5 linked regions of the Homo sapiens genome follow. The protein of the gene in region 5 interacts with the protein of the main gene of each other region in a pairwise test. Each region holds a gene or a part of one and is shown on either strand. Other genes may lie near its edges.

Region 1 (3,517 bases), on a different chromosome or scaffold from region 5:
TGGGCGCGGTGGCTCATACCTGTAATCTCAGCACTTTGGGAGGGTGAGGCAGGCACATCACCGGAGGTCAGGAGTTTGAGACCAGCCTGGCCAACATGGTGAAACCCCGTCTCTACTAAAAATACAAAAATCAGGCCGGGTGCAGTGGCTTATGCCTGTAATCCCAGCACTTTGGGAGGCCGAGGCAGGCGGATCACCCGAGGTTGGGAGTTCGAGACCAGCCATGACCAACATGGGGAAACCCCGTCTCTACTAAAAACACAAAATTAGCCGGGTGTGGTGGTGCACGCCTGTAGTCCCAGCTACTCAGGAGGCTGAGGCAAGAGAATTGCTTGAACTCAGGAGGTGGAGGATGCGATGAGCCGAGATCATGCCATTGCACTCCAGCCTGGGCAACCAAGAGCAAAACTCCATCTCAAAACAAAAACAAAAACAAAAATCAGCTGGGTGTGGTGGCGGGTGCCTGTAATCCCAACTACTCAGGAGGCTAAGGCAGGAGAATCACTTGAACCCAGGATGTGGAGGTTGCAGTGAGCTGAGATCATCTCAGCTGAGACTCTGTCTCAAAACAAAACAAAAAAAACACACATCAGATACATGTATATATTTGCACAGACAACTTTCAGGAAGATACACAATAAACTAACTGCCTGCCTCTGAAGAACAGGACAGGGAAACACAGTTGGAGAGAGACTGACTTTCAACCCTCCCCCGTGCTGCTGTTCTCCAAAAATGCCCATTCCCTCCAAATGTGTGTGTGAGCACACTTCTGTGTTAGCGCAATGCAACTCTAATTAGAATTCCAACAGAAGTCTTTTAAAGGAATGACTACAACTACTTGAGAATTCATAAGAAGAATGGATGCTAGAGAATAGCCAAGAATTTAACTGGAAAGAACAGAGGGTGGGGACTGCCTTGCCAGGAATCAGAGCCAAGGGTGGGTAGGAAGCCGCTGCAATTAAACCAACAAGTTGTTGACAGAGGAACAGATGAAGCCAGACAGGTATGTGGGAAATTGGAAGATAACAAAAATGTTACATTTTAGTTCAGCAGGAAATCAGTGGTTCCTTTAGTAACTTGTGTGTACCCAGATGGGATACATCAATAACCAATTTTTTTGTTTGTTTTTTTTTTTGAGACAGAGTTTCACTCTTGTTGCCCAGGCTGGAATGCAACGGCGAGATCTCGGCTCACCGCAACCTCCACCTCCTGGGTTCAAGTGATTCTCCTGTCTCAGCCTCCCAAGTAGCTGGGATTACAGGCATGCGCCACCATGCCCAGCTAATTTTTTTTGTATTTTTAGTAGGGACAGGGTTTCTCCATGTTGGTCAGGCTGGTCTTGAACTCCCGACCTCAGGTGATCCGCCCGCCTTGGCCTCCCAAAGTGCTGGGATTACAGGCGTGAGCCACCGTGTCCAGCCACCAATTTTTTTTTTTTTTTGAGACGAAGTCTTGCTCTGTCACCCAGGCTGGGATGCAATGGGGTGATCTTGGCTCACCGCAACCCCTGCCTCCCAGGTTCAAGCAATTCTCCTGCCTCAGCCTCCCGAGTAGCTGGGATTACAAGCACCCACCAGCACGCTCGGCTAATTTTTTAAATATTTTTAGTAGAGATGGGTTTTCACCATCTTGGTCAGGCTGGTCTCGAACTCCCGACCTCAGGTGATCCACCCGCCTTGGCCTCCCAAAGTGCTGGGATTACAGGCATGAGCCACCACGCCCAGCCCAACAATAACCAATTTTGGATTAAGATGAAGACCAAGTGTGAGCATTAACAGTGGCCTCATGTGCTCCTGGTCCCCCTGTCTGACATCTGCCTACCCTCAAGGGCAGAAGTGCCTTCTCTCCTGCCACACCCTGACCCTTTCCATGGGTCACCCACCAGCGCACAGATCTGCCATTTCTTTATTTTGAAACAGAATCTCGCTCTGTCACCCAGGCTGGAGTGCAGTGGCATGATCTAGGCTCACTGCAACCTCCGTCTCCCAGGCTCAAGCGATCCTCCTACCTTAGCCTCCTGAGTAGCTGGGACTACAGACACCTGCCTCCATGCCCGGCTAATTTTTGTACTTTTTGTAGGTACGGGGTTTCACCATGTTGCCCAGGCTGGTCTCGAACCCCTGAGCTCAAGTGATATGCCCCTCTTGGCCTCCTAGAGTGCTGGAATTACAGGCTTGAGTCACTGCGCCTAGCCCTGCATGCGAATTTGACCTTGGGTGAATGCACAGCTCTGGTCCCCTGGAAACCTGGCAGAGGTGGATGGTCATTCTCTCTACGGACCAATCACACCTGGGCTGTGACTCAATGATGAACAACCACAGGAAGTACATTCAGGGCCTCCCTAGCAGGTCTTGCAGCCAGTTCTCTTGACACAGGAGGTGCTGGCTTGTATGACCACGAGGCTTTCGACTAGGCTAACTCCTCCTCCTACCTGCATCTTGTGTTTATGCACCTCAGTACTCCCTGGATGGCTGCTGGATGATGCTGGCCAGCTTTTCCGAGAAGCTGCTGCTAGGCATGGTTGTCCTGTGAGTCTGAAAAGTCAGTTGAGCCCAGTAGCTCTTTTGGTACACTTGAGCTCGTGATCCCCCTTCCCTCTGACTCAACCTTTCAATATGGGTGTCTCATAGCATCTCAGACATTTAACATCCCAAACCAAGCACCCCCTCTACCATCATTTCTACCCCCAGCTTGGTCTGTGAGCCTGTGCATCAGCCTCCTTCCTTCTTCACTCCCACACTTCTATTCACCTTCCAAGCACATCCAGAACCTGACCATGTTGCCCATCTCGCCCTCCCTGCCCCATGACAACCACCCCTAGATGTTCGGCAGCTCCCATCTGGGCAGACAGACTCCCAGCACCGTCTGTCTGCCCAGCCCCTCCATCTACCTTCCTGTGAGAACACAGTGACTGTCCTCTGCTCCAAGGTCCTCCCAGGACCCCACTGGCTCCTATGGGCATGCCCCAAACTTTGTGATTTTCCTCAGAGCCCTGCAGCCCTTTATCCCTTGGCCTGTGCTCCCCATCCAACTCTTAGAGACCTCTGCCCCACCCACCGCAGCAGCCCTGGCCTCACCCAGCTCTCATCCTATCCCTTTCTCCTGCACCAGCAGACCAAGAAGCAGGCCCAACAGAGTAATCAGTGGTCGACCTTTTTTTTTTTTTTTTAATTACTTCTAGGCTAATGATTACAAATTGCCAGGCAATGTACTTTTTTAAACTTTTAATTAATTTCTTAGAGACGGGGTCTCACTTTGTAGTCCAGGCTGGAGTACAGTGGCTCAATCACAGCTCAATGCAGCCTCCAACTCCTGGGCTCAGGTGATCCTCCCACTTCAGCATCCCAAGTAGCTAGGAATACAGGTTGCACCACCATGCCTGGATAATTTCTTAATTTTTTTTTTTTGGTAGAGACGAGGTCTTGCTGTGTTGCCCAGACTGGTCTTGAACTCCTAGGCTCAAGGGATCCTCCCTCCTTGGCCTCCGAAAGTGTCAAGATTACAGGCCTGAGAACAC
Region 2 (3,517 bases), on a different chromosome or scaffold from region 5:
GAGGTAACTTTTAGCTCCTTTTCCTTCTGCTGAAGGGTATTGTCTTCCTCCCTTCCTACCCTGTCCTCCATCCATGATCTTGTGTTTACAGAACAAAGACTAAGGCTTTTTCTGGGCAATTAAACCTGGGTCAGCTATTTTATCTCAGACTCCTCCAGATGGCAGAGCTCTATCATGGTATAGTGCAATTATTTTCAAATTTCTTTTAGCCAATTTTTTTTTTTTTTTTTTGGGAGACAGAGTCTCGCTGTGTCGCCTAGGCTGGAGTGCAATGACACGATCTCGGCTCACTGCAACCCCTGCCTCCTGTGTTTAAGCGATTCTCATGCCTCAGCCTTCTGAGTAGCTGGGATTACAGGCGTGCGCCACCACACCCGGCTAAGTTTTGTATTATTAGTAAGATGGGGTTTTGCCATGTTGCCCAAGCTGGCCTCGAACTCCTGGCCTCATGTGATCCACCCGCCTCAGCCTCCCAAAGTGCTGGGATTACAGGCGTGAGCCACCACACCTGGCTGAATGGTTTTTTTTGAGACGGAGTCTCACTTTGTCACCCAGGCTGTAGTGTAATGGTATAGTCTCAGCTGACTGCAACATCCACCTTCTGGGTTCAAGCGATTCTCCCGCCTCAGCCTCCTGAGTAGCTGGGACTACAGGCTTGTGCCACCACACCCAGCTCATTTTTGTATTTTTAGTATTGATGGGGTTTCACCATGTTGACCAGGCTGGTCTCAAACTCCTGACCTCATGATCCACCTGCCTCGGCCTCCCAAAGTGCTGGGATTACAGACATGAGCCGCTGCGCCCGGCCTTGGTCTTGAACTTCTAGGCTCAAGAGATCCATCTGCCTGTACTTTGCAAAGTGCTAGGATTACAGGTGTGAGCCACCACATGCAGCCTAGACTAGAATATTTATTTTTTAGGGTGGGCGCGGTGGCTCACGCCTTTAATCGCAGCACTTTAGCACTTTGGGAGGCCGAGGCAGGCAGATCAATCCGAGGTTGGGAGTCGAGACTGGTGAAACCCCATCTTTACTAAGAAGACAAAAATCAGCTGGGCGTGGTGGCACATGCCTGTAATTTCAGCTACTCGAGAGACTGAGGCAGGAGAATCGCTTGAACCTGGGAAGTGGAGGTTGCAGTGAGCCAAGATTGCGCCATTGCACTTCAGCCTGGGTGACAAGAGTGAAACTCTGTCTCAAAGAAAAAAAGGATATGACTGGGCGCGGTGGCCCACGTCTGTAATCCCAGCACTTTGGGAGGCTGAGGCGGGCAGATCACCTGAGGTCGGGAGTTCAAGACCAGCCTGGCCAACATGGGTGAAACCCCGTCTCTACTAAAACTACAAAAATTAGCCAGGCGTGGTGGCAGGCGCCTGTTGTCCCAGCTACTCGGGAGGCTGAGGCAGGAGAATCGCTTGAACCTGGGAGGCGGAGGTTGCAGTGAGCCGAGATCACACCATTGTACTCCAGCCTGGGCAACAAGAGTGAAACTCCATCTCAAAGAAAAAAAGGATATTTCTTGTTTTTTTGTTTGTTTTTTGAGATAGCGTCTCTGTCGCCCAGGCTAGAGCGCAGTGGCGCTATCTTGGCTTACTGCAACCTCCACCTCCCAGATTGAAGCGATTCTCCTGCCTCAGCCTCCCAAGTAGCTGGGATTACAGGTGTGTGCCATCACACCTGGCTAATTTTTGTCTTTTTTAGTAGAGATGGGGTTTCACCATGTTGGCCAGGCTGATCTCAAACTATGGACCTCAGGTGATCCGCCCACCTCGACCTCCCAAAATGTTGGGATTACAGGTGTCAGCCACCACGCCTGGCCTGACTAGAGTATTTCTGTGAGATCTTTTTGAATTCTGACATCGTATAATTGTCAGATTCCCTTTCGTTGGTATTATACTATTCTAAGTGAATAGGGTGTGTGTGTTTGAATACCATTTCCATTTATCAAGGGAATTGATCTTTTTGGGAGGCTTTTTTCTGTGCCTGTGCAATTTCTGGGTCATGATAATCTTTGACTTCTTCAGGGATCCTGCTCAGGGCACTGGCAGGTAAAAATTCACCATTACCTTCAGATGATACAAACTTTATTTTTTGTTTTTGTTTTTTGTTTTGAGATGGAGTCTCAGTCTGTTATCCAGGCTGGAGTGTATGTAGTGGTGCGATCTCAGCTCACTGCAGTCTCTACCCCCCGAGCTCAAGTGATCCTCTCACCTCAGCCTTTGGGTGGGTGGGATTACAGGTGCATGCCACCATACCTGGCTATTTTTTTTTTTTTTTTGGAGACAGTTTCCCTCTGTCACCCAGGCTGGAGTGCAATGGCACAATCTCCGCTCCCTGCAACCTCTCGCTCCTGGGTTCAAGCGATTCTTGTGCCTCGGCCTCCCAGGTAGCTGGGATAATAGGCACGCGCCCCCACGTCTGGATAATTTTTGCTTTTTTAGTGTTTCACCATGTTGCCCAGGCTGGTTTTGAACTCCCGACCGCAGGTGATCCACCTGCCTTGGCCTCCCAAAGTACTGGGATTACAGGCATGAGCCACTATACCTGGCCCTAATTTCAGTATTTTTAGTAGAGACGGAGTTTCACCATGTTGGCTAGGCTGGTCGCGAACCCCTGGCCTCAAGGGATCCACTTGCCTTGGCCTCCCAAAGTGCTGGGATTATAGACATGACCCATTGCACCCGGCCTAATTTTTGTTGTTGTTTTTTAATTTTTTGAGACGGAGTCTCATTCTGTCGTCCAGGCTGGAGTGCAGTAGTGCGATCTCAGCTCACTGCAGCTTGTGTAGTTAGCGCAGAGTGAGCAAAGGGAGACCGATACAAAATTCGGTCAGAGAGTAGATCATGTAAGACATGTACGGTAGGCTGAGGAGGGGGGATTTTATTGTGCGTATACTGAGAAGCCATTGAGTTAACAGTGCCTTCTGGTTTTTTGTTTTGTTTTGTTTTGTTTTGTTTTTGAGACGGAGTCTCGCTCTGTCACCCAGGCTGGAGTGCATTGGCGTGATCTCGGCTCACTGCAAGCTCCACCTCCCAAGTTCACGCCATTCTCCTGCCTCAGCCTCACGAGAAGCTGGGACTACAGGCGCCTGCCACCACGCCCGGCTGATTTTTTTGTATTTTTTTTTAGTAGAGATGGGGTTTCACCGTGTTAGCCAGGATGGTCTTGATCTCCTGACCTCGTGATCCACCCACCTCGGCCTCCCAAAGTGCTGGGATTACAGGCGAGAGCCACTGTGCCCGGCCGAAAGTGCCTTCTGTTTTAAACTCCTGTTTCAATGACAGATGGAAAGGGGGGCAAGAATGGAAGCAGGAACAGAGCACAGTAGTCCAGGTGAGAAACTTGAACTGGAGTGCTAAAGGAAGAGAGAGAGAGTAGTTTTATGTAGGATAAATTTTACGAGTAAAACCAGTAGGACTGACAGGCTCTGTGATACTGAGAGATACATATTTGGTCTCCTGACCAGGCTCCTGGCATTCAACTTCTAAAATCCTTGGAATCTCCAGTGATGTGTGTTTT
Region 3 (3,792 bases), on a different chromosome or scaffold from region 5:
CCTGACAGCTCCCCACTTCCCACCCCAGGGGCCTTGGTGTGGACAGCAAGCCAGAGCTGCAGCGTGTCCTAGAGCACCGCCGGCGGAACCAGCTCATCAAGAAGAAGAAGGAGGAGCTGGAAGCCAAGCGGCTGCAGTGCCCCTTTGAGCAGGAGCTGCTGAGACGGCAGCAGAGGCTGAACCAGGTGGGTGATGGGCACCCAGCAGGGACCACGCATCCTCCAGGGCTGTCCTCCAGGGAGGAGCTCTGCTGTGGCCACAGCTAGTAAGAGGGAAGAGGATCAGCAGACAGAGCACTGGACTAAGAGTCCACTCCTGGCCTGAGTCCTCCCTCTGCCATTCACTTTGCTAGGTCCTTAGGGCGAGTGGCTTCCCTGAACCTCAGCTTCCTCACTGGCCCAGTGTACTGCATGCTGATTCTGATTTCATTCTTATAACTGTCTTGTGAGCCAGGTGGCATTCCCATTTTAGAGATGGGGAAGCTGAGGCCCAGAGGGGGTGAGTGATTTGAACCAGGCTGCACAAGGAGAACTCAGTCTCATGCTCTGTGCCCCAGCTACCAGGCTGATAGCAAAACTCATCCCCAGGTTGGTTCTGTTTCCCCACTGAGTGGGCCCTTGGTCCAAACTCCACAGGTTTTCAGAGTAGGAATCCCCCTAGCTCCACCCACTTCACTCTCTGCTTCTCCCTCCTTCAGCTGGAAAAACCACCAGAGAAGGAAGAGGATCACGCCCCCGAGTTTATTAAAGTCAGGGAAAACCTGCGGAGAATTGCCACACTGACCAGCGAAGAGAGAGAGCTGTAGGGCCAGCTGCCGGGCTCAGGCCACTGCCCACCCTGGCCTGGACAGCCTCCTTCAGCCCTTCTGTACCTGGCAGCCCTGGGCCCCAGGCCCTGGGACGTCTGTGATGTTCCCACCTGCTTCTGTAGAAATGTGTCACCCCAGAGGGCCTGGCTCTCCCTGGGAGGCTGGGGCCCCTAAGCTCCTAGGTTTTCCTTCCAAGCACCCAGCCCTCCTGCTCCAAGAGGGATAACCTGCACCCCTCCCTGCAAGGGGTTCAGAGCCCAGCACAGGAGCTTTCTCTGGCAGAATTGAGGAGGAAGAGGTGGCCCTCTGACTTGACAAGCCTTCTGTTCTGCCCAGGCCTTCCCACCAGGAATCTCCGAGGCTCCCCAGGGCCCCGCTTCTCCGTACACCCCAGCTCCTAGGTCTCAGAGAACTCCCCCACCTGTGGTTTTACCTGCAGCCAGCAGAGCTTAGCTTCAAGGACACCTGCCTTCAAAGCCACTGAGGGGAGGAAGGGCAGGGCAGACTGCAGATGGCCTTGTTGCTGGCATCCCGGCCAGGTGGGCGGGGACTAACAAAGACAGCTGTTTAGGGTCTTCTCCCCTCACCCATGCTTTCATCATCCCCTCCGCACAGCCTCCCCGTCCAGGCCTTCTAACCACACCTACCCAGGGCTGCCGCATTCCTGCACTCAGAAGTCTGCAGCGGTGCCTCACAAACTTGATTGTGCATAAAAATCACTGGGGATCTTGTTAATACAGCTTCTAACTCAATAGATCTGGGAGATCCTGCATTTCTAACAAGCTCCCAGGTAAGGCGGAGGCTGCTGGTGTGAGGACCATGCTGTGAGCAGCAGGGCGAGAGTGCCCAGGGCTGATATATATTGGAAATATCACCCCTGAAGCCATCGCTGGCCCCCACCTCCTGTGGACTGATGCCCCAGGGATTCCCACCCCACTTCTGCAACCCCAGGTATCCTTCATTATCCACCCCATCCCAGACTCCCACCCCAGGGATTGCCCGTGAAGACTTTGGCCTAGCAAATTGTGTTGGTTATGTGAGTGTTGTTTTAATCAGAGATGTACATGATTGCCAATCTGCATTTCTTACCAGTGTGACCACACTGTTACGATGCAATTCTAGCCAAAAAAAAAAAAAAAAAAAAAAAAATTTTTTTTTTTTACTTTTTCCTAGTCTTATGGAAAGCAAATATACAATGATTTTCAGTAGGCTTCTGGAATAGAAACAGTGGTTTGAAGACCCCACTGCCACCTTTATGGACTGGCCCCTTTGAGTCTGAATCCCCGGCCTCTGTCACCTGAGACCCAACCCCTAGCTGGGCCAACTCCAGTGAATTCACCCATTTTTCTTCTTCAGAAGGCCTTTCCTGTGTGAGACCCACATATTTTAACCTTTTGCTCCTATCCCATTTTTAAAGAATTAGAGAATAAACCAGGCCTGTTTCTTTTCCCCTGAAATCCCTGCCTCTGGCTTCCTAAACCCATCATCTAAGGTGACAGAGCAGTGCTGGAATAGCATCTCCTTTCACTTTCCCAAAACTGCCACAGATAGCTGCCACTGGCATGCTCTTTGATTCCTGGAAGCAAACGTGGGACTGTCGGAGGAAAGGGATTGTTCTGGTCTTACTCATAACTGGGTGGTTTGAGGGTGACTGAAGTCGTGCTTTTCCTGTGTGTGCTGCCAGCACAGGGCTGTAAATGCAGATATTGCGCCTGTGTGCGTGTGTATAAGTCAAGCTCCAAGAGGCTCCTGAATGTGACTGGCGTGCTGAGAATGTGTTTACGCTGTTTAATGTCTGCCAGGTGAGGGTTACACTGAAGATGCACAATCCCTAAAATAAAGATCACCACTTCCCCAAAGAAGCAGCCCTCGGGTCCATGTGTTGTTCAGACATGTGAAGAGAAGCAAGACAGAGGGTCTCAGATGGACGAGGGCTCTCCAAGGGAATGCCTGGGGATTCACCCAGTGGTCCCCAGAGGTGCTCCATGGAGGCAACAAGTCATTCCATGAAGCCCCAGAGGTAGAAGGGACCTCAAGCACCACGCCCTCCAGGGCAGCCGTGCAGACGACCTTGGTTCACTTTTCAGGGGTCGTCCCAACTCTGTATCTCCAGCCACTCCAACTGTGGAGGCTGTAAATCCAGATTTTCACTGTTCCAGTCTCCTTTGCAGCTTAGGATGGCTATGTGATCAGGTGTGGCCAATGAAATTGAAGAGGAAGTCTACCTGGGCTTCTGGGAAAGCTTTTCCAATAAAAGACACAGGCATGGCTAACACCTCCCTGGGCCTCTTCTTCCTACCTTGATTGAGGGTGTGATGCCTGGAGCCACAGCAGCCACTTTGCTACCATGACAAAAAGGCCAAGAGAATCACAGAGTCATTGACCCTATCATTATTTCACCAAGCCAATACCAGCCGCCATCCTTCTCCAGAATTCTTGTAAATAAAATAAATCCCTCTTTGTTTAAACCATTGTTGGTCAGTCTCTGTTACTTGCAACCAAAATCATCCCTAACTGACACAGAAGGCCAGTCCCTGCCTGTCCAAAATTACCTGCAGGCTGTGCTAAAAATCCAGATTCAACTTTCCCATCAGAAGCCTATTGGATCAGGATCCCCAGCTGCAATGCCTGGGATCTGTTTTTCTGCACCTTCCCCATATAGCCTACCTAGCATGAGTCTGAAAACTGGTACTTGGACATGACTAAAGCACACATCATTCAACAAATATTTATCGAGTTCCTGCTCCATGCCAGGATGCATGCCATAGGCTGGGACACAGTAGAGAACAAAGGTGCAGTGCCTCCCCCTCATCTGATGACTGCAGTGGTCTCCTCCCAACTGGTCTCCCCTACTGGCCTTGTCCCTACACCCTGTTCTCAACAGAGGAGCCAAAATGATCTTCCTCCAGTCTAAGGCAGAACTTGCGACTCTGCACAGAGCCCTCCCTGGGCTCCCAGTGGAGTCTCTCCTGCATTCCAGGTGG
Region 4 (4,012 bases), on a different chromosome or scaffold from region 5:
TTCCCTATTTAATAAATGGTGTTGGGAAAACTGGCTAGCCATATGCAGAAAACTGAAACTGGACCCCTTCCTTACACCTGAAATAAAAATTAACTCAAGATGGATTAAAGACTTAAACGTAAGACCTAAAACCATAAAAACCCTAGAAGAAAACCTAGGCAATACCATTCAGGACATAGGCATGGGCAAAGACTTCATGACTAGAACACCAAAAGCAATGGCAACAAAAGCCTAAATTGACAAATGGTATCTAATTAAATGAAAGAGCTTCTGCACAGCAAAAGAAACTATCATCAGAGTGAACAGGCAACCTACAGAATGGGAGAAACATTTTGCAATCTATCCATCTGACAAAGGGCTAATATCCAAAATCTACAAAGAACTTAAACAAATTTACAAGAAAAAAACAAACAGCCCCATCAAAAAGTAGGTGAAGGATATGAACAGACACTTCTCAAAAGAAGACATTTATGTGGCCAACAAACCTATGAAAAGAAGCTCATCATCACTGGTCATTAGAGAAATGCAAATCAAAACCACAATGAGATACCATCTCACACCAGTTAGAATGGTGATCATTAAAAAGTCAGGAAATAACAGATGCTGGAGATGATGTGGAGAAATAAGAATGCTTTTACAATGTTGGTGGGAGTGTAAATTAGTTCAACCGTTGTGGAAGACAGTGTGGCAACTCCTCAAGAATCTAGAATGAGAAATACCATTTGACCTGGCAATCCCATTACTGGGTATATACCCAGAGGATTATAAATTATCCTACTGTAAAGACACATGCACACATATGTTTATTGCAGCACTGTTCACAATAGCAAAGACTTGGAACCAACCCAAATGTCCATCAATGATAGACTGGATAAAGAAAATATGGCACATATATGCCATGGAATACTATGCAGGCATAAAAAAGATGTGTTCATGTCCTTTGCAGGGATATGGATGAAGCTGGAAACCATCATTCTCAGCAAACTAACACAGGAACAGAAAACCAAACACCACATGTTCTTACTCATAAGTGGGAGGTGAACAATGAGAACACATGGACACAGGGAGGGGAACATCACACATCGGGGCCTGTCAGGGCTTGGGGGACTAGGGGAGGGATAGCATTAGGAGAAATACCTAATGTAGATGATGGATTGATGGGTGCAGCAAACCACCATGGCACGTATATACCTATGTAACAAACCTGCACGTTCTGCATATGTATCCCAGAACATGTATAATAAAAAAAAAAAGAAAAGGACTTAGTGCCCCTGAATTGTATACTTAAAAACAGAGAGAGAGGTGGGAGGAAGGGAGAAGAGTATTCTAGGAGGAAGAGACTATGTGCAAAAAGTATTGGAAGCAGGAATGAATAAGACAACTCAGGAAAAAACAGCAAGTGCAGCTCAGTCTGGCCAGACACGTGGTGCCTTGAGGAGGGAGGCTGAGCGATGAGGCCGGACAGGGAGGAAGGATCCCGACTGCAAAGGGCCTTGAATGTCTTGCTAAAGACCTTGGACTTTCTTTGGGCACTAGGTATACATGGGAGGATTTTGTGCAGATGAGTGACTTTGTGTTTTAGGAGGATCTGTCTCCCAGCAGATTGGAAGGTGACTGGAAAGGGTGAGAATGGAGACAGGAAATGCCATGGAGACTGCAAAGTCTGCGCAAGAGATAGGGAGAACCTGGCTGTGAGGATAAGGCAGAATTAAAGATTTGGGAGATGTTTCTAAGGTAACCACTTCCAGACCTGGTGACTGGATGACAAGAGAGAGATCTGAGAGGCTGACAGGAAAGTGCCCCAAGGCCAGATGGGGAATTCTCACAATTCTGGACTACTGCCACCCTCCCTTTCTCAAGAAGAAGAGCAGTGCTAGCAGGTTCCCCTTCCCAGCTCCTCCCTCCCCTCTGCGCCCTGGCAGTCAGGGCCCTATAAACCCCATTTCCAGTCTGGATCCTGGGAGAACAAGTTTACCCTGCCCATAATCTGCAGAAGATCCCACTCGGCATTGGAGCTTTCTTTCCATAGTGAGTGAAGCCAAGGCTACAGTTCTTTGCACTCCACCTCTGTGGGGTCCTCTGAGAGCTGGAGCTGAAGTTCCCCCCAGACCAGGAACTACCACACATCCAAGTGGAGCCCTATCTGCCTTCAGTCTGGGAATGCCTCGAAAGTCCCTGTAACCTTAGGGTTCCCTGATGTGGAAGCCTTTCATCCAGATCCCCGCCCGATTTCCTCCCCTCATAACAGGACATCATCCTGCCCCAAACAGGCCCTAGGTAAAGCTACACTTCTTACCCGGTAGGGCTGAATGGCCTCGTCCAGGAACCCCACGGTGTGCGCCTGGTGCGTGGGACCCTCCCTGCAGAACACACAGAGGAACTCGGCATCGTTCTCGCAGAAGAAGTAGATCTTCTCGCCGTGCTCCTCGCAGTAAGTTTCTCCCAGCGGGCCCAGGGGCACAGGGGCCATGGGAGTCTCTGCCTGCTCCTCCTCTTGGCAGAGCGGGCAGAGCAGGATCTTGCCCGAGGATTGGGCCCCCATCTGGGAGAGCGCGGGGAGGCAGAGCCGGCAGAAGGTGTGTCCACAGGGAATGGTCACCGCATCCTCCAGCGGCCCCGCACAGAGGGTACAGGCAGGCAGCTCATGGACCACCTTCAGGGACGGGGTTGCGGGCATCACGGTGCCTTCCCCAGCCCGTCCACTCCGGTCTCCTCAGCCCACGCGAGTTCCCTTTCCCTGAAATCGAGTCACACTTACATGAATCGCAGAGGGAAACGGCTGCAAGGCTAAGAGACAGAGAGAGAGAAAGAGAGAGAGAGGCAAGAATGCCAGCACAGGGAAGCCACCTGGCTCCGCCTCTTGTGTTCCCTAGAACCCTGGCCACCACCTATCAGCGGAGTGGGTCCAAATTCCAGGGCGTCTCGAATTACCCAGAATTTCCCAGTGGCGGCCAAGTAAGCCAGTTCTTTACTCCTGGCTCCTTCTGGTCCCTAGGGTGGAGAACAGAGCACACCATGAGGTCACAGGGGGATGGGTTTCCTGGAATCTGTAGACCACAGTGGCTGGGGAGAACTGGGGAGCAGAAGCTTCCTGTCAGATTGAGCAGGTGGGAGCCATAAACTTCTGGCTCTGAGGCGTGCCCACAGCATCAAAGTCCAGGCTGGAGTGAGAGGTGTGGACTTCGGGAGATTCTGCCGGAAGTGTGTGGGCGGGACGCTGTTTCGACACTGCAGGTAGGGTGTAAGGATTGCTCATCGGGTCCCCTCTTCTGCTCTCCTTTCCTCCCTCACCACATCTGCCCATGGTGGCCCCTCCTACGGTCCCAAATCCCCCACCACCTGGCACAACAGTCCCCTTTGGGGTTCGGGTAACACTGGACTATTTTATTTATTTATTTATTTATTTATTTATTTATTTATTTATTTATTTTTACTGTAGCGGGGAGAAGGCAAGAAACCATAATGCAAATGATTTATGTTGATACACATTAGAAAACGATTAGTCAGATAATCAGTTTCAACCACATTTATCTAGGGTTTAGTATTTTTATATTACTACATTCAATTTTAATAACCCTCTAGGCAAACATTATTACCTTCATTTTACAGAGAAAGAAATGTAAACTGACTTTCCAAATGTAAAGTGACTTTCCAAAGGTCACAAAGCTAGAAAGTATCACGTTAAGGACGATCCCAGTCTCCTGGCTTAAAGCCCTACGCTCCTCCCACACCTCATGCCAAGACCAAGATCTGCAGCCACGGTCCTTCACCCATGCACACATCTGTGGATAAAACCAGGCCTTCCCCCATTCTCCCACTGGGTGATCAGCCTAGCCCCTTGTGGTTGCTCCCTTTTTACTCTAATCACTTTATTACCTCCCCTTCCCATCCAATCTCTGCTCTTCCTGCCACGAGTGCAGCCCAGGAACTAGTTTGTCCAATACAGGAGCCACCAGCCACATGTGTCTACTGAGCACTGAAATGTGGCCGGTCTGAATGGCGGCATGCTGTA
Region 5 (3,517 bases):
CAATCTCAGCTCACTGCAAACTCCGCCTCCCAGATTCACACCATTCTCCTGCCTCAGCCTCCCGAGTAGCTGGGACTACAGGCACCCGCCACCATGATTGGCTAATTTTTTTGTATTTTTAGTAGAGATGGGGTTTCGCCGTGTTAGCCAGGATGGTCTCGATCTCCTGACCTCTTGATCCGCCCGCCTTGGCCTCTGAAAGTGCTGGGATTACAGGCATGAGCCACCGCGCCCGGTCACCTATAGTGTAATTTTTAAAGTATAAGGTTGCAACCTTCATTAATTAAATGCAATAAAGTTACATTATACCTAAGTTTATGTTTCCTGTACAAGTGAAAAATGATAAAAATTTAGGCTCATATTTTATGAAGCTCAAAACAATTTTGTTGCTTGTTCCAAAGACTGTAAGAATTAGGTTTCAACATTTACTTGTAGCATATAGTTAAGTATTACGTTTAAAATCTTCTTAAAAGTTGGCTGGGCACTGTGGCTCACGCCTGTAATTCCAGCACTTTGGGGGTGCAAGGCAGGCGGATCTCTTGAGGCCAGGAGTTAGAGATCAGTCTGGTCAACATGGTGAAACCCCATCTCTGCTAAAAAATACAAAAATTAGCCGGGTGTGGTAGTGCACACCTGTAATCCCAGCTACTTAGGAGGCTGAGGCATGAGAATCACTTGAACCTGGGAGGTGGAGGTTGCAGTGAGCTGAGATAGTGCCATTGCACTCCAGCCTGGGCGACAGAGCAAGACTCCATCTCAAAAAAGAAATCTTAAAAGTTGACAGCCTGGTTGGGCACAGTGGCTCACATCTGTAATCCCAGCACTTTGGTAGGCTTAGGTGAGCAGATCACTTGAGGTCAGGAGTTGGAGACCAGCTTGGCCAACATGGTGAAACCCTGTCTGTACTAAAAAAAATTAGCCAGGTGTGGTTGCATGTGCCTGTAATCCCAGCTATTCGGGAGGCTGAGGCAGGAGAATTGCTTGAACCCAGGAGGCAAAGGTTGCAGTGAGCAGAAATGACACCACTGCTCTCCAGCTTGGGTGACACAGTGAGACTTTGTCTCAATAAATAAATAAATAAATAAATAAATAAGTTGTCGGCCAAGCACAGTGACTCAGAAACTGAGCTCATTTTCTGACTTAAACATGCCTTTTAATTTAATCTCCAGTTAATGGTAACCCTGTTCACCCATTTGCTCAAACTAGAAACCTTGGGTTCATCCTTTTTTATTTACTTGTTTGTTTGTTTATTTCTCATCCTCTGACTCTTGCTTGGGTTCATTCTTGACAATATTCCTCTCCTCACCTCTACCCCTCCAAATCAAATTGGCCAAACCTCTTGCAATTGTGCCCCACTACAGTGTAAGTTCCATCAAGAAGGCTGGGCATGGTGGCTCACACCTGTAATCCCAGCACTTTGGGAGCCCGAGGCGGGTGGAGCTCAGGAGTTCAAGGCCAGCCTGGCCAATATGGTGAAACCCCATCCCTACTAAAAATACAAAAATTAGCTGAGTGTGGTGGCAGACAGTTGTAATCCCAGCTACTCGGGAGGCTGAGGCACAGAACTGCTTGAACCTGGGAGGCAGAGGTTGCAGTGAGCTGAGATTGCACCACTGCACTCCAGCCTGGGTGACAGAGCAAGACTCTGTCTAATTAAAAAAAAAAAAATTTAGAAAAGAGAGAAGAATCAAATAGATGCAATAAAAAATGATAAAGGGGATATCACCACCGATCCCACAGAAATACAAACTACCATCAGAGAATACTACAAACACCTCTACGCAAATAAACTAGAAAATCTAGAAGAAATGGATAAATTCCTCAACACATACACCCTCCCAAGACTAAACCAGGAAGAAGTTGAATCTCTGAATAGACCAATAACAGGCTCTGAAGTTGTGGCAATAATCAATAGCTTACCAACCAAAAAAAGTCCAGGACCAGATGGATTCACAGCCGAATTCTACCGAGGTACAAAGAAGAGCTGGTACCATTCCTTCTGAAACTATTCCAATCAATAGGAAAAGAGGGACTCCTCTCTAACTCATTTTATGAGGCCAGCATCATCCTGATACCAAAGCCTGGCAGAGACACAACCAAAAAAGAGAATTTTAGACCAATATCCTTGATGAACATTGATGCAAAAATCCTCAATAAAATACTGGCAAACTGAATCCAGCAGCACATCAAAAAGCTTATCCACCATGATCAAGTGGGCTTCATCCCTGGGATGTGAGGCTGGTTCAATATACGCAAATCAATAAATGTAATCCAGCATATAAACAGAACCAAAGACAAAAACCACATGATTATTTCAATAGATGCAGAAAAGGCCTTTGACAAAATTCAACAATGCTTCATGCTAAAAACTCTCAATAAATTAGGTATTGATGGGATGTATCTCAAAATAATAAGAGCTATCTATGACAAACCCACAGCCAATATCATACTGAATGGACAAAAACTGGAAGCATTCCCTTTGAAAACTGGCACAAGACAGGGATGCCCTCTCTCACCACTCCTATTCAACATAGTGTTGGAAGTTCTGGCCAGGGCAATTAGGCAGGAGAAGGAAATAAAGGGTATTCAATTAGGAAAAGAGAAAGTCAAATTGTCCCTGTTTGCAGATGACATGATTGTATATGTAGAAAACCCCACTGTCTCAGCCCAAAATCTCCTTAAGCTGATAAGCAACTTCAGCAAAGTCTCAGGATACAAAATCAATGTGCAAAAATCACAAGCATTCTTATACACCAATAACAGACAAACAGAGAGCCAAATCATGAGTGAACTCCCATTCACAATTGCTTCAAAGAGAATAAAATACCTAGGAATCCAACTTACAAGGGAAGTGAAGGACCTCTTCAAGGAGAACTACAAACCACTGCTCAATGAAATAAAAGAGGATACAAACAAATGGAAGAACATTCCATGCTCATGCATAGGAAGAATCAATATCATGAAAATGGCCATACTGCCCAAGGTAATTTATAGATTCAATGCCATCCCCATCAAGCTACCAATGACTTTCTTCACGGAATTGGAAAAAACTACTTTAAAGTTCATATGGAACCAAAAAAGAACCCGCATCACCAAGCCAATCCTAAGCCAAAAGAACAAAGCTGGAGGCATCACGCTACCTGACTTCAAACTATACTACAAGGCTACAGTAACCAAAACAGCACGGTACTGGTACCAAAACAGAGATATAGATCAATGGAACAGGACAGAGCCCTCAGAAATAATGCCACATATCTACAACTATCTGATCTTTGACAAACCTGAGAAAAACAAGCAATGGGGAAAGGATTCCCTATTTAATAAATGGTGCTGGGAAAACTGGCTAGCCATATGTAGAAAGCTGAAACTGGATCCCTTCCTTATACCTTGTAGAAAAATTAATTCAAGATGGATTAAATACTTAAATGTTAGACCTAAAAGCATAAAAACCCTAGAAGAAAACCTAGGCAATACCATTCAGGACACAGGCATGGGCAAGGACTTCATGTCTAAAACA

What was found.
Region 1: the proteins of NEXN (region 5) and ZNF250 interact in binary tests that used the Homo sapiens proteins (3 or more experiments, as listed by UniProt).
Region 2: the proteins of NEXN (region 5) and FXR2 interact in binary tests that used the Homo sapiens proteins (3 or more experiments, as listed by UniProt).
Region 3: the proteins of NEXN (region 5) and FAM107A interact in a two-hybrid assay, tested with the Homo sapiens proteins (one study listed by BioGRID).
Region 4: the proteins of NEXN (region 5) and TRIM15 interact in a protein complementation assay, tested with the Homo sapiens proteins (one large-scale study listed by BioGRID).

Annotation. Positions count from the first base shown.
Region 1 is NC_000008.11:144,891,437-144,894,953, forward strand, and holds part of ZNF250 (zinc finger protein 250), read right to left. Parts: intron 1-3,517. UniProt on the Homo sapiens protein: May be involved in transcriptional regulation.
Region 2 is NC_000017.11:7,597,895-7,601,411, reverse strand, and holds part of FXR2 (RNA-binding protein FXR2), read left to right. Parts: coding exon 1-3; intron 4-3,517. UniProt on the Homo sapiens protein: mRNA-binding protein that acts as a regulator of mRNAs translation and/or stability, and which is required for adult hippocampal neurogenesis. Specifically binds to AU-rich elements (AREs) in the 3'-UTR of target mRNAs.
Region 3 is NC_000003.12:58,563,601-58,567,392, reverse strand, and holds the end of FAM107A (actin-associated protein FAM107A), read left to right. Parts: intron 1-28; coding exon 29-185; intron 186-697; coding exon 698-805; 3' UTR 806-3,276; downstream 3,277-3,792. UniProt on the Homo sapiens protein: Stress-inducible actin-binding protein that plays a role in synaptic and cognitive functions by modulating actin filamentous (F-actin) dynamics. Mediates polymerization of globular actin to F-actin. Also binds to, stabilizes and bundles F-actin.
Region 4 is NC_000006.12:30,162,350-30,166,361, reverse strand, and holds the start of TRIM15 (E3 ubiquitin-protein ligase TRIM15), read right to left. Parts: upstream 2,817-4,012; 5' UTR 2,761-2,816; coding exon of another isoform or gene 2,759-2,760; 5' UTR 2,678-2,758; coding exon 2,297-2,677; intron 1-2,296.
Region 5 is NC_000001.11:77,895,107-77,898,623, forward strand, and holds part of NEXN (nexilin), read left to right. Parts: intron 1-3,517. UniProt on the Homo sapiens protein: Involved in regulating cell migration through association with the actin cytoskeleton. Has an essential role in the maintenance of Z line and sarcomere integrity.